Linked DNA regions of Homo sapiens. The protein of the gene in region 3 binds, or shares a complex with, the protein of the main gene of each other region. Each region holds a gene or a part of one and is shown on either strand. Other genes may lie near its edges. A codon is read from its position in the direction of its gene.

Region 1 (3,748 bases), on a different chromosome or scaffold from region 3:
TCATAATATATGCAAAGGGGACTATACAATCCCCCAAAAAATCAAGCATCAGTGAATTAGAATATACTTTAGGATACTGATGTTACCTATATTACTTAGCCTTTTGAATCATTATAGTCCAGTTCACTCATTTTCTTTTTTTTTTTTTTCTTTTTTAGATACAGGGTCTCACTGTTGCCCAGGCTGGTCTCCAACTCCTGGGCTCAAGTGATCCTCCCATTTCAACCTCCCAAAGCGCTGGGATTACAAGCGTGAGACACCACACCTGGCCAGTTCACAGTTTAAATGAAGCTCTTTCCTACTTTAGAACTTCTGCTAAATGCTGTAGCTTCCAACTGGCATGTTCTTTGTACAATTAGGTATTCCCGATACTTCAGATCTAGAAGTATACATTTAGGAACTTTATGAGAATTAAATGTACTGAAGAACCAAAAATAATGTCAACCATATAGAAAGTGTTCAATAGGTCAGGCGCAGTGGCTCATGCCTGTAATCCTAGCACTTTGGGAGGCCAAGGCAGGCGGATTACTTGAGGTCAGGAGTTCAAGACCAGCCTGGCCAACATGGTGAAACTCCATCTCTACAAAAAATACAAAAATTAGCTGGGCGTGTTGGTGGGTGCTTGTAATTCCAGCTACTCAGAAGACTGAGGCATGAGAACTGCCTGAACCCAGGAAGTGGAGGTTGCAGTGAGTTGAGATAGCACCACTGTACTCCAGCCTGAGTGACAGAGCGAAAACTGTCTCTAAAAAAAAAAAAAGAAAGTGCTCAATAAATATTAGGTATTATCTGAAACTCCATTACATATACAGGTTTCCTATCACCATTTATTCTCTCAGCATTCTGCTAATTTGTTGTAACATTTTATTGGCCAGGCATGATGGCTCATGCCTGTAATCCCAATACTTGGACTTTGGGAGGATGAGGTGGGAGAATCATTTGAGCCCAGGAGTTCAAGACCAGCCTGGGCAACAAACTGAGAACCCACCTGAACTAAAAATAAAAACAGCTTGGTGTGATAGTCCATGTCTGTAGTCCCACCTACTCGGGAGGCTGCAGCAGGAGGATCAGTTGAGCTCGGGAGCCTGAGGCTACAGTAAGCCATGTTGGCACCACTGCACTCCAGCCTCGGCAACAGAGTAGGACGCTCTCTTGAAAAAAAAAAAAATTATTTCTAGAGTATAAGCTCCCTGAGGACAAAGTCTGTGTCTCATACATCATTATACACCCAGGATCTAGCACAAAATCGCACTCAAATATCACCAAATAATCATGCTGGAATCAATAAAACTCACAGGCCATACGCAGGGGGAAGGTTCAATGACCTCTATAGTACTAGCGATGGGGAGGATAGTGTTAACTTTAATGTGGCAAGGAATAAAGAATGAGCAAGTGTGTTTTGTCAAGGGAAAGAGGCAGGCACTTGAGATTAACTGAATGGATGTATTGAATTTGAGGTAGAAAAACTAAACGGAAGTTAGAAATACAAGGGACATCTGGACGCCAAAAATCTAGTAGTGGTTAAGAACATGGCCTCTACAGGCAGTCTAAGTTTAAATCCCAGTTCTACTGCCTCCTAGTTGCATAGATTACTTAACCTTTGGGCCTCGATATGCCAGTGTCAGAAAAAATAAAAAAAAGACACCAATTATACCTGTATCAACCTCACTGAGTTGTTTTGAGAATTAAATGAATACTGAATGAATTAAATGAATACTGAAATACTGAAGCACTGAAATAACAATTAGGAAAGAGTAAATAAATGCTAGGTATTATTAAGATGGTACATGGTAGCTAAAAATCTGATTCTGAATATACAGTGAGAACATAAAATAGAACCAGAACCCCACATAATAACAACTGGGAACAAAAGAAAGAAAACATATGAAGAAAAGTGATAAGTGGATGACAGGAAAAACAGAGCGGAAGCAAAAGAAAACAGTTTTGAAGGATTTGTTAACAACAGAGTGTTGGTTAAGTACATACGGTTTATAAGGCCAAAGGATTTGGCAATTTGAAGGTCAATCATGAACAGAAAACATAGTGTTCTACGAAGTGTTTAGAAGGGAGGAGAGAAGAAAGCGAAAAGGCAGACTACAGAGTGGGGTTAATGGGTAGTGGAGGAGCATAAAGAGAATTCTAGATCAGTGGTCCCTAAACTTCATTTCAAGGGCTTCAAAAAGAAACAGGGAATCTGACACAAGGTAGTGGACTCCCTTAATACTATCAATAAAATTTTTTTAACTATTATCACCATCATCTGAAAAAGGAAATGCCTAACAGTAAAAATGTATGAAGGCTAAAAATCCCAGAACAAAGGGAACACCTTTATGAAAAATCACTGTCGGCCGGGCGCGGTGGTTCACGCCTGTAATCCCAGCACTTTGGGAGGCCAAGGTGTGCAGATCACGAGGTCAGGAGATCAAGACCATCCTGGCTAACACGGTGAAACCCCATTTCTACTAAAAATACAAAAAAATTAGCTGGGCGTGGTGGCAGGCACCTGTAGTCCCAGCTACTGGGGAGGCTGAGGCAGGAGAATGCCGTGAACCTGGGAGGCAGAGCTTGCAGTGAGCCAAGATGGTGCCACTGCACTCCAGCCTGGGCGACAGTAGAGCGAGACTCCATCTCAAAAAAAAAAAAAAAGAACATAAACTCTTTGACTACATTTTCTTGTATTAGCTATGTCATATTTTTACACTTGGCAAACAAGCATTTTGTATATACCCAAAATCCACTTACTACATACAAACTATAAAGAAAAATATAAGGACACATTAGCAATATATATAAACTATGCCTTGCAGCAGCATCACAGGCGCTCAATAAAACTTTATTGAAATGTACTCAAGTGGTGTGGGCCACGCAATACTAGATGAAGAATTACAAGTCAGATTCCACTCTATAAAAAAGAGCTAAGACAGTATAACATAATGGTTACAAGAGTGGTAACATGACTACAGGCTTTGGAATCAGACAGACTTGGGTTCAAATCTCAGCTGCAATACTTTATGGCTAGGTGACCTTGGCAAAATGATTTAACCTACCTAAATTTGTCTCCTCACCTGTAAAACAGGAATACTCACCTCATGAGGTTATAGTGCTGATTAAATGGCAGTTTCTAACTTTTAGAAGTCGTAACATGATAGATGTTGCTGCTTAAAGATCCTTAAGTTAGTAGGAGATATTTTGCTTAGACTTACTTGATTTCTTCATTTTTAAGGGGGGAATCTCCTGAATTTTCCATTTTCAGGGTTTTCAAAAGCTGGTCTGGAATAGTAATTTGCAAATCCTAGTGTCTTTTCCATGACAAGATTTTAATGAATCTACTATGAAATTACAAAAAAGAAAAGTGTAGTGTAGTAATTTTTCTCTTTAACAGGCACTACTGTGAAGAAAGAATCACTTGTAGAACTCTAAAAAATATGCAGGCCTCTTATCCTCTGGAGATCTGGATTGATCTAGGGCTTGAAGAAAATGGACTGTCTGTGGAATTTTGGTAATTCATGTTATATAAAAGTTAAGAAACCACTGTCCTATGACCTTACTAACAATGCTTTACCTGAGTCTAAGGTAAGGAAGAATCAGAGACAGAAGAGCTTTAAGATGTGATCCTTTAGTTTGGTTCCAAGTTTCTAAGACAGACCTTTACTCTAAATTCTTTTTACAGAGAACAGAATCATACTGTAAAGTTCCTTTTAATATCTTTCCCAAAGCCAGGGAAAATATTATTCCCCATTAAAATTTT
Region 2 (3,748 bases), on a different chromosome or scaffold from region 3:
AAGTATGTATCAAACCTTTCAAAAATCTTAGGTTTATATCAGCAATTATCCTTACTAGAAAGGTCCTGATCTGAACTCACCTAAAGCTATGTGTTAACTACATTTCACCACTAAGACACTTGAGCCCCGGGATAATAATGGCCACGGATTCCCCGAATTGCTTCGAGAACTGCTGCTTGCTTAATAAAGCGCTGAACTGTGAATTCACCTTTCTAAACAGACTAAAAGCAAGACGCCAAGTTTCACTATCTAGTTTGGGATTTCACTGGGAATGACCACGTTATCAAGATGCCATAGCCCTCCTGAGGCTTTTAATTACAATACCTTCTCTGTTTTCCATTCAACCACCTCAATCAAATTTCCACTAGAACCAGGCACACAAACAGTTGATTCGTGGCTTTGCGCAAAGCCTCCTCTGGATGCAAACCCTGGGATCCTGCATACATTAGTCCTCTCAGGGAGGGCAAAAGGGGAAAAAAAGTTTGTTAAACAATGCCGCTGGACAATGTGGTGACATTACCTTGCCCGTCTTGTGATCAAACCAGACGAGAGCGTGGTTCCTTGATAGCACTTTGCAATCAAAAGTGGCATTATTCTGCGCTGGTCGACAGCGGGCCACTGAGCGGCCGATTTTGATGGGCTCGTCCAGGTAGACATGACGCTCCTGAAACGGGTGCGAGTTCGGGCGGCAAGTGAAGATGGCCAAGGCTGACGGCATCGAGGATAGACTGGGGGTGTCTCTCCTACCAGGGACAAAGAGGAGTTCCTCCGGATCCGGACTGCCCTTCACAAGCCTATGCCCCTATCCCACCCAAAATTTTAAATTAACACAAACTGCACATTGTCTAAGCATAACCAGTGAACATCAACTCTTCACTTGGGTGGGAAGACAAGCCAGCGCAAGCCCCATCACCTCCTTTAAAACGCTGCAACGCCGTGATCACAAAAAGTCCCCAACTGGCAGCTTTCAGTCCATCTTCTTCTCTGGGAAGAAAAGGCTCAAACATCGGGCAGCTTCGGCCAAGAAAACTCCTGGAACACAGTTTGGGGACTGGAGGTATCCAAGCAGATGAGTCACACGCCAATTCTTGTGTTTGGTTTGAGATCGCGGCCGCTTTTCCCCCTTGGTGGCGGAAACGTTGCAGCACTGCAGCATGAATGAAGGGTCGGTTCGGCGCGGCCAGGAAAGTCCTTTTGGGCCGAAGGAAGGTGTGGCTGGGCACCTCTGGGCAGCCACCGCCAGTCCTCGCCCGGAGTGAAGGGGCGAGAGGTGACGGAGACGGAGGGGCTCTAGACGGCCGGCGGGACAGTCTGCATCGCCCCTGCTGAGCGGAGGCCGCCCCGGGAAGGGGGACGCGGTCCCCGGCCTGGCACGATCCGAGACGGCGGTGGCTGAGGTTCTCCGCGCGAGGCGTGGAGGCCGGCGGGGCGCGGGCAGTGGCCAAGTCGGGACTCCTGGGCACCTGGCGAGCGTCCCCGCGACCAGGGCGGGGACCCGGCTCCGCAGGCCGGTGCGGACCGAGCGAGGCGCGACACCGGGAGGCTCGAGTTCCCAGGCGGCAGGAAGTTGGTCCCCGGACGCCTAGGCTTCTGGGCCGCCGCTCAGCACATGGGCCGCCTCCCCTCAGGGTCGCCCCCGCGAGGGTCGCATCTCAGGGACGGCAGCCGCAGCTCCCGGCGGACGAGAAGGTGGGGGAGGGAGACTGGCCCGGAGGTTGGGGAGAGGCCTTGAGGCCCCGGGCTGGATCCGCCGCAGCCTCCACCGATCGCGGCCGATGGGGCAAGCTCAAGCTGCGCCCGACGAGGCAGGAAACTTTCCGACCTGGTGGGGAAAACATCAAAACAAACGGCCGTCAGGCGCCTCAGCCCGCCCGCCTCAGCCGTCGCCCCCTCCAGCCAGACCCCCGCCAGCCCACACCGCTAGGCACGACCTCCGCCGACCTCTCCGCAAGCAGGCTACGAGGATTTGGAGCCAGGACGCCACGACGGGTCCTACCTCCCTAGCCGCCACCACCGCCTCAGCTTACCTTGCCAGCGCCGGCCGCCATAGTGACTCTGACTGAAACCTACCCGGTGCACCGCCACGGGAACGCGCACCCTTCAAGGGCCCTCCTACCCCCTCTCCCGCGCCGTAGTCCAGGAATGTCACGTGAACGACGCCACGGAAGCCGTGTTGGTAGAGGGCAGAAAAAAGGGCAAGGTAATTTTTAACGGGCCTCCAGGCGCCATCTTAGTTAAGGGCTGGAAGCTTCAAACCTCGGGACAACCTTAACGACCATTTTGGTTAAGGGCAAGAACAATTTGCGCCGTAGAAGGTTTTTCAAACAAACAGTGCCACCTTCTTATTTTATCTACTTAGCAAGGGGGTGCCAACTTTTACTAAATTTTATTCTGTTTAATTCTCGATGAAAATACTAGCGAGCAAAAGAACAGACCCAGCCAAAGGAGATGGTCATTAGCAGCCATCTTAGCTGTGGGCAACACAGTCACCCGCAGCTACCTTAAGTGTGAGCCGCCAAACTCCCTGAAGTCTTAGGATTTGTGCACCTAACAGAAGGACCATTCTCCCCTCTGCTAAATTCGTTATGTTTTCTTCCCGGAAAAAAAAAATCTTAGTTCCCGCATTCCATTTCGAATGACAGTCTTTCTCACTGAACCTATTATGTGCCCCCAGGGCTCCTGCGCGGATTCTTCCACAGAAGGAGCGTCCAGAAAGTTTAAAATCATGTTTCTTCCAAAGAGAGATTGAATAATTTCCAAAGTGAAAAAAGAGGGTATTTCCCCCACTTACAATATCAAGATGAGGAGTCATTGGTCTAAAGAAGGAAGACTTTGCAAGGGCTAAATGAAAACTTTAAGAAAAAATAGTGAGAAGGAGACTTACTCATTTAGAATCAAAGGTGACTTCATTCTTCAGATTCCTGCAATAACAGGCTCCACCACTGTGTGACCTTAAGCAAGTTTCTAAACTTTTTCAAGCCTCTTTTTTCTCATGGATGACATGTTAATAATAGTTAATTCACTTGATGTGGTGAGACTTCAAAATGTTAATCCATGTTGTTCAATAAAGAGTAGCAATTAGGCCGGGCGCGGTGGCTCACGCCTGTAATCCCAGCACTTTGGGGGGGCCGAGGCAGGCGGATCACCTGAGGTCGGGAGTTTGAGACCAGCCTGACCAACATGGAGAAACCCCGTCTCTACTAAAAATACATAATTAGCCGGGCGTGGTGGCGCATGCCTGTAATCCCAGCTACTTGGGAGGCTGAGGCAGGAGAATCACTTGAACCCGGGAGGCGGAGGTTGCGGTGAGCCAAGATCGCGCCATTGCAGTCCAGCCTGGGCAACAAGAGTGAAACTGTCTCTCCAAAAAAAAAAAAAAAAAGAAAGAAAGAAAGAAAAAGTAGCAGTTATTCATCTCAATACTTATATAGACAGTTTGGCCGTGTCCTAGGTTTTTGCTGGGCCCTGGGGACACATAACTGAACCAAACTTCAATTCCTGCCTTCTGAGATCATAACGGTATTGTGGGTTAGAAATGAGGGTAGGGAGTGACAAACATGAAATTGATGTAATCAGGGCTAAGATAGAGGCAGGCACTAGCTGCCCAAGGGGTCAGGGATGGTCTGGGAGAAGTAACTGAACTGAATGAAGGAAGATAGGAAAACCACAATAAATATGGTATTCGCTGAATGGTTTCATGAATTTCCACAAACACGGATAGCAAGGAAAAGAAGGAGCCTACTTGAAA
Region 3 (3,748 bases):
TTAGACTCAGGCAAAGGCGACAAAGTAAACTGCTTTCATGAGACACAGGGACAGTCTTGTGTTCAAAAATATTAAGATTCATTTAACAATTCTGCCTCTATCTGAATTAATATAATTTATTCTGTGCCTTGATACTAAATAATTTAAGTGTTTAGCTACCTATGAACTTCTTTTCCTGTTATTCTCAAAACTAGGCAGGGTTTATGACCTTTGTGTTTGAAATGTTGTTAATTCTTTCTGTTTTGTTTTACCTACAAAAGTTGAAACTCTTCAATCCCGCCATGCCTAGAGACTATAACGTAATGTTGTAAGGGCCAGTATTGAGAGCTAAAATTAGTTCAGACCCTACAAATCAAGGATGACACAGATGCCAAAACAGCTAAACAAAATGCTTGCATTTTGTATAGCTAATTGCAACAAGCCAAGATTACAGCAGCTCAATGCATAGAATTTATAGATAAGTCAATTTTGTAACCCTTGCCTTTTGGTTTTTGCCTCTTAACATTGCTTAAGAGGGGTTTTAAGGTTAATGAGTGCCTGCCCACCTCCTTCCCATCTGACCTAGAACGTTTAATTGGCTGTAACTCTTTTGACTCTAAGTCAGTTGGCCGCAGGAGGGACATGATGGACTCAGGGCAGGTAGCACACCACCCTGGCATTGATATGGGACAAAATTAAAGTTTGGACACTGATACTGTCTCTGGGATACCTTGACCAAAAAAAAAAAAAAAGTGGAATGCTGTTTTGAAGGCATGAGCCTAGCCATTCCCCATCTGCGAGCATTTGATTAGTAAAGCTTTCACCACAGGTCACTTCTCATGTTTTTGGCCTCTAGGCAGCAAGCAGCCAGACGTGAGCCAGTTGCAATAGCAGCATTATTGACAATAGCAAAAGGTGGAAGCAACCCAACTGTCCATCCACGGATGAATGGATAAACAAAACGTGGTATATATATATTATTCAGCCTTAAAAAGGAAGGAAATTCTAACATATGCTACTATATGGATGAAACTCGTGGACATTACACTAAGTGAAATAAGGCAGTTATATAAATACAAATGCTGTATGATTTCACTCATGTCAGGTACCCAGAATAGTCAGATTTGTAGAGACACAAAGTAGAATGGTGGCTGCCAGGAGCTGGGGATAAGGAAGAATGAGGAATTATTGTTTAATGAGTACAGAACTTCAGTACTGCAAGATGAAAGAGTTCTAGAGATGGATGCTGATGGTGGCTGTATAACAATATGAATGTACAACTGAACTGTACACTTATAAATGGCTGAGATATTAAATTTTATGTGTATTTTGCCACAATTTAAAAAAAATTAAATGAAAGTAGGCCAGGCGCGGGGGCTCACACCTGTAATCCCAGCACTTTGGGAGGCCGAGGCGGGCGGATCACTTGAGGTCAGGAGTTCGAAACCGGCCTGGCCAACATGTGAAACCCCGTTTCTACTAAAAATAGAAAAATCAGCCGGCGTGGTGGCGCATGCCTGTAATCCCAGCTACTCGAGAGGCTGAGGCAGGAGAATCGCTTGAACCCTGGAGGCAGAGGTTGCAATGAGCCAAGATCGCGCCACTGCACTCCAGCCTGGACAAGAGCAAGATTCCGTCTCAAAAAAGAAAAAAATAATGAAAATAAAAAGAAACTAACTGTGACTGAAGAACAACCCACATCAATGAAAACCAGTAGGGAAAGGAGACCTTCCCACTGCCCAGCTAATCATAGCCTGACCACCAGGCTGTGGTAACTGGAAACCAACGGCGTGGCAAGTGTAGGTCTGGGGCTCCGCGCAAGGAAGGACTGCAAGGAAGCCGCAGGTTAAAGCGGGTCAACCCGCAAAATAGGCTGCCACTGCGCAGGCGCCCATTGCGCCTACCAAGACACCTTGTAAACGTGCCCGGAAATGACGCCTGTAATGCTGAGACAGACTCCCAGAAGATCTGAGCGAGTCGCGTAGCTGAGCCCGGCAGGGGCTGGGGTGGTGCTGCTGCTATGAGCTGCACCATCGAGAAGATCCTGACAGACGCCAAGACGCTGCTGGAGAGGCTACGGGAGCACGATGCGGCCGCCGAGTCGCTGGTGGATCAGTCGGCGGCGCTGCACCGGCGGGTAGCAGCTATGCGGGAGGCGGGGACAGCGCTTCCGGACCAGGTCAGGCAGAGGGTAGGAGTCCAGTGCTCTCGGATTCTGGGCACTGAAGGGTGGAGAGCGAGGTAAAGTGGGAACTCGGCCTGGAATTTATTCCCGGTCTCAGAGGGCGGCGGTGAGACCATTTTCCTGGGTCGGGGCTGAGAATCCTGCCCTGGAGCCCTAACTTCTGCCTCTTCAGTTGCATCTGCCGCTGTTCTCTTTAAGGCATGCTTAGTCTGTCTCTATTTGTCCAGTATCAAGAGGATGCATCCGATATGAAGGACATGTCCAAATACAAACCTCACATTCTGCTGTCCCAAGAGAACACACAGATTAGAGACTTGCAACAGGAAAACAGAGGTTAGTCAGGCCTTTTCATATCTGGTAATAGTTTAAAGTTATTGCAAAATTGCCCTAAACATTTACAAAAGTGTACATATATTTCCAGGTCAGTACTTTTAGTAGGAGAGTCCTCCTGATCTGGCCCAGTAACAATAAAGTTTGTTAGATTACCCTTTTCAAGGTCATCTGACTAATATTGCAGCAGCTTACCAAAGAGGTGCTGTGTAGAGTTGGTATTATTGCATGGTTTATTTTTAAGCATCCTCAGATGTGTAACAAAAGAGTTCATAGCCTCATGGACTTAAAATTTAATGTTTAAGTATTAATATAAACACTGAAGGTAAGATTTAAGGTTTTGTTTATGTTCTTGTTTGTGCAAGGTGAAGCAGCAGAATTTTATTCTAAGGGTATATATTCTTAGGCTTGATTAGTACATTATTAATGATTGTGGTATTAATAGTTGTTTACCAGAGGGGTTTCACATATATCATTCTACTGTATTCTCATATCTTCATTTTTATCTACCACAATGCAGTTAAGAAATAGGCTCAGAAGAAGCTAAATGATTTACTTATGAGTATTAACCAAGCAAGTTACAGAACTGAACTCAAACACATGTCTTCTGATGATACATCCATTGTTGTTTCTGCAAGACTTTGCTTCTCTGCCTAGAAAGTTACCTTTCACATAGACTTTAACTGTTCAGTTTTGCGGACTTAAACATTGATTTACAACTTTAGATTCATATTATCTATATAGTGTTACAAAATTCCAACTGTTAAGACTTTGGATTTGGGAACTGTCTCTCAGACATCACTGCCAAGTTCTTTTATTTTTTGACAGAGCTATGGATTTCCTTGGAGGAACACCAGGATGCTTTGGAACTTATCATGAGCAAATATCGGAAACAGATGTTACAGTTAATGGTTGCTAAAAAAGCGGTGGATGCTGAACCAGTCCTGAAAGCTCACCAGTCTCACTCTGCAGTAAGAAACTTTGAATAAATTCGAAATGAACCAAATTGAAATCTTGAGATTGTTTTAGATTGTGTGCTTGTTTTTTTGCTTTGTGAGATAGGGTCTGGCTCTTGTCGACCAGGCCGTGGTGTAATGGCACGATCTCGGCTCACTGCAACCTCTGCCTCCTGGGCTCAAGCCATCGTCTCACCTCTGCCTCCGGAGCAGCTGGGACTACAGGTGCACACCACCACGCCCTGTTAATTTTTGTGGGGTTGTTTGTTTGTTTGTTTGTTTGTTTGTTTTTTGGTAG

What was found.
Region 1: the proteins of SIKE1 (region 3) and STRN3 are in contact, whole or in part, in a crystal structure (PDB 6AKL), measured with the Homo sapiens proteins. Residues at the interface, in NP_079349.2 of Homo sapiens: Glu96 (codon at 3,343), His97 (codon at 3,346), Ala100 (codon at 3,355), Leu103 (codon at 3,364), Ile104 (codon at 3,367), Ser106 (codon at 3,373), Lys107 (codon at 3,376); in NP_001077362.1 of Homo sapiens: Arg176, Leu179, Tyr182, Leu183, Val186, Tyr188.
Region 2: the proteins of SIKE1 (region 3) and SLMAP are in contact, whole or in part, in a crystal structure (PDB 6AKM), measured with the Homo sapiens proteins. Residues at the interface, in NP_079349.2 of Homo sapiens: Ile5 (codon at 2,012), Ile8 (codon at 2,021), Leu9 (codon at 2,024), Ala12 (codon at 2,033), Lys13 (codon at 2,036), Leu16 (codon at 2,045), Leu19 (codon at 2,054), Arg20 (codon at 2,057), His22 (codon at 2,063), Asp23 (codon at 2,066), Ala26 (codon at 2,075), Glu27 (codon at 2,078), Leu29 (codon at 2,084), Val30 (codon at 2,087), Ser33 (codon at 2,096), Ala34 (codon at 2,099), Leu36 (codon at 2,105), His37 (codon at 2,108), Val40 (codon at 2,117), Met43 (codon at 2,126), Arg44 (codon at 2,129); in NP_001291349.1 of Homo sapiens: Leu168, Tyr171, Leu172, Glu174, Ala175, Arg178, Glu179, Met181, Leu182, Lys185, Thr188, Leu189, Leu192, Leu193, Ile195, Thr196, Ala199, Ser200, Thr202, Ser203.

The regions. Positions count from the first base shown.
Region 1 is NC_000014.9:31,019,752-31,023,499, forward strand, and holds part of STRN3 (striatin-3), read right to left. Parts: intron 1-3,748. UniProt on the Homo sapiens protein: Calmodulin-binding scaffolding protein which is the center of the striatin-interacting phosphatase and kinase (STRIPAK) complexes.
Region 2 is NC_000003.12:57,754,622-57,758,369, reverse strand, and holds the start of SLMAP (sarcolemmal membrane-associated protein), read right to left. Parts: upstream 2,062-3,748; 5' UTR 2,028-2,061; intron 1,823-2,027; 5' UTR 719-1,822; coding exon 521-718; intron 1-520. UniProt on the Homo sapiens protein: Associates with the striatin-interacting phosphatase and kinase (STRIPAK) core complex, forming the extended (SIKE1:SLMAP)STRIPAK complex.
Region 3 is NC_000001.11:114,778,859-114,782,606, reverse strand, and holds the start of SIKE1 (suppressor of IKBKE 1), read left to right. Parts: upstream 1-1,921; 5' UTR 1,922-1,999; coding exon 2,000-2,158; coding exon of another isoform or gene 2,159-2,170; exon of another isoform or gene 2,171-2,220; intron 2,221-2,391; coding exon 2,392-2,497; intron 2,498-3,322; coding exon 3,323-3,465; intron 3,466-3,748.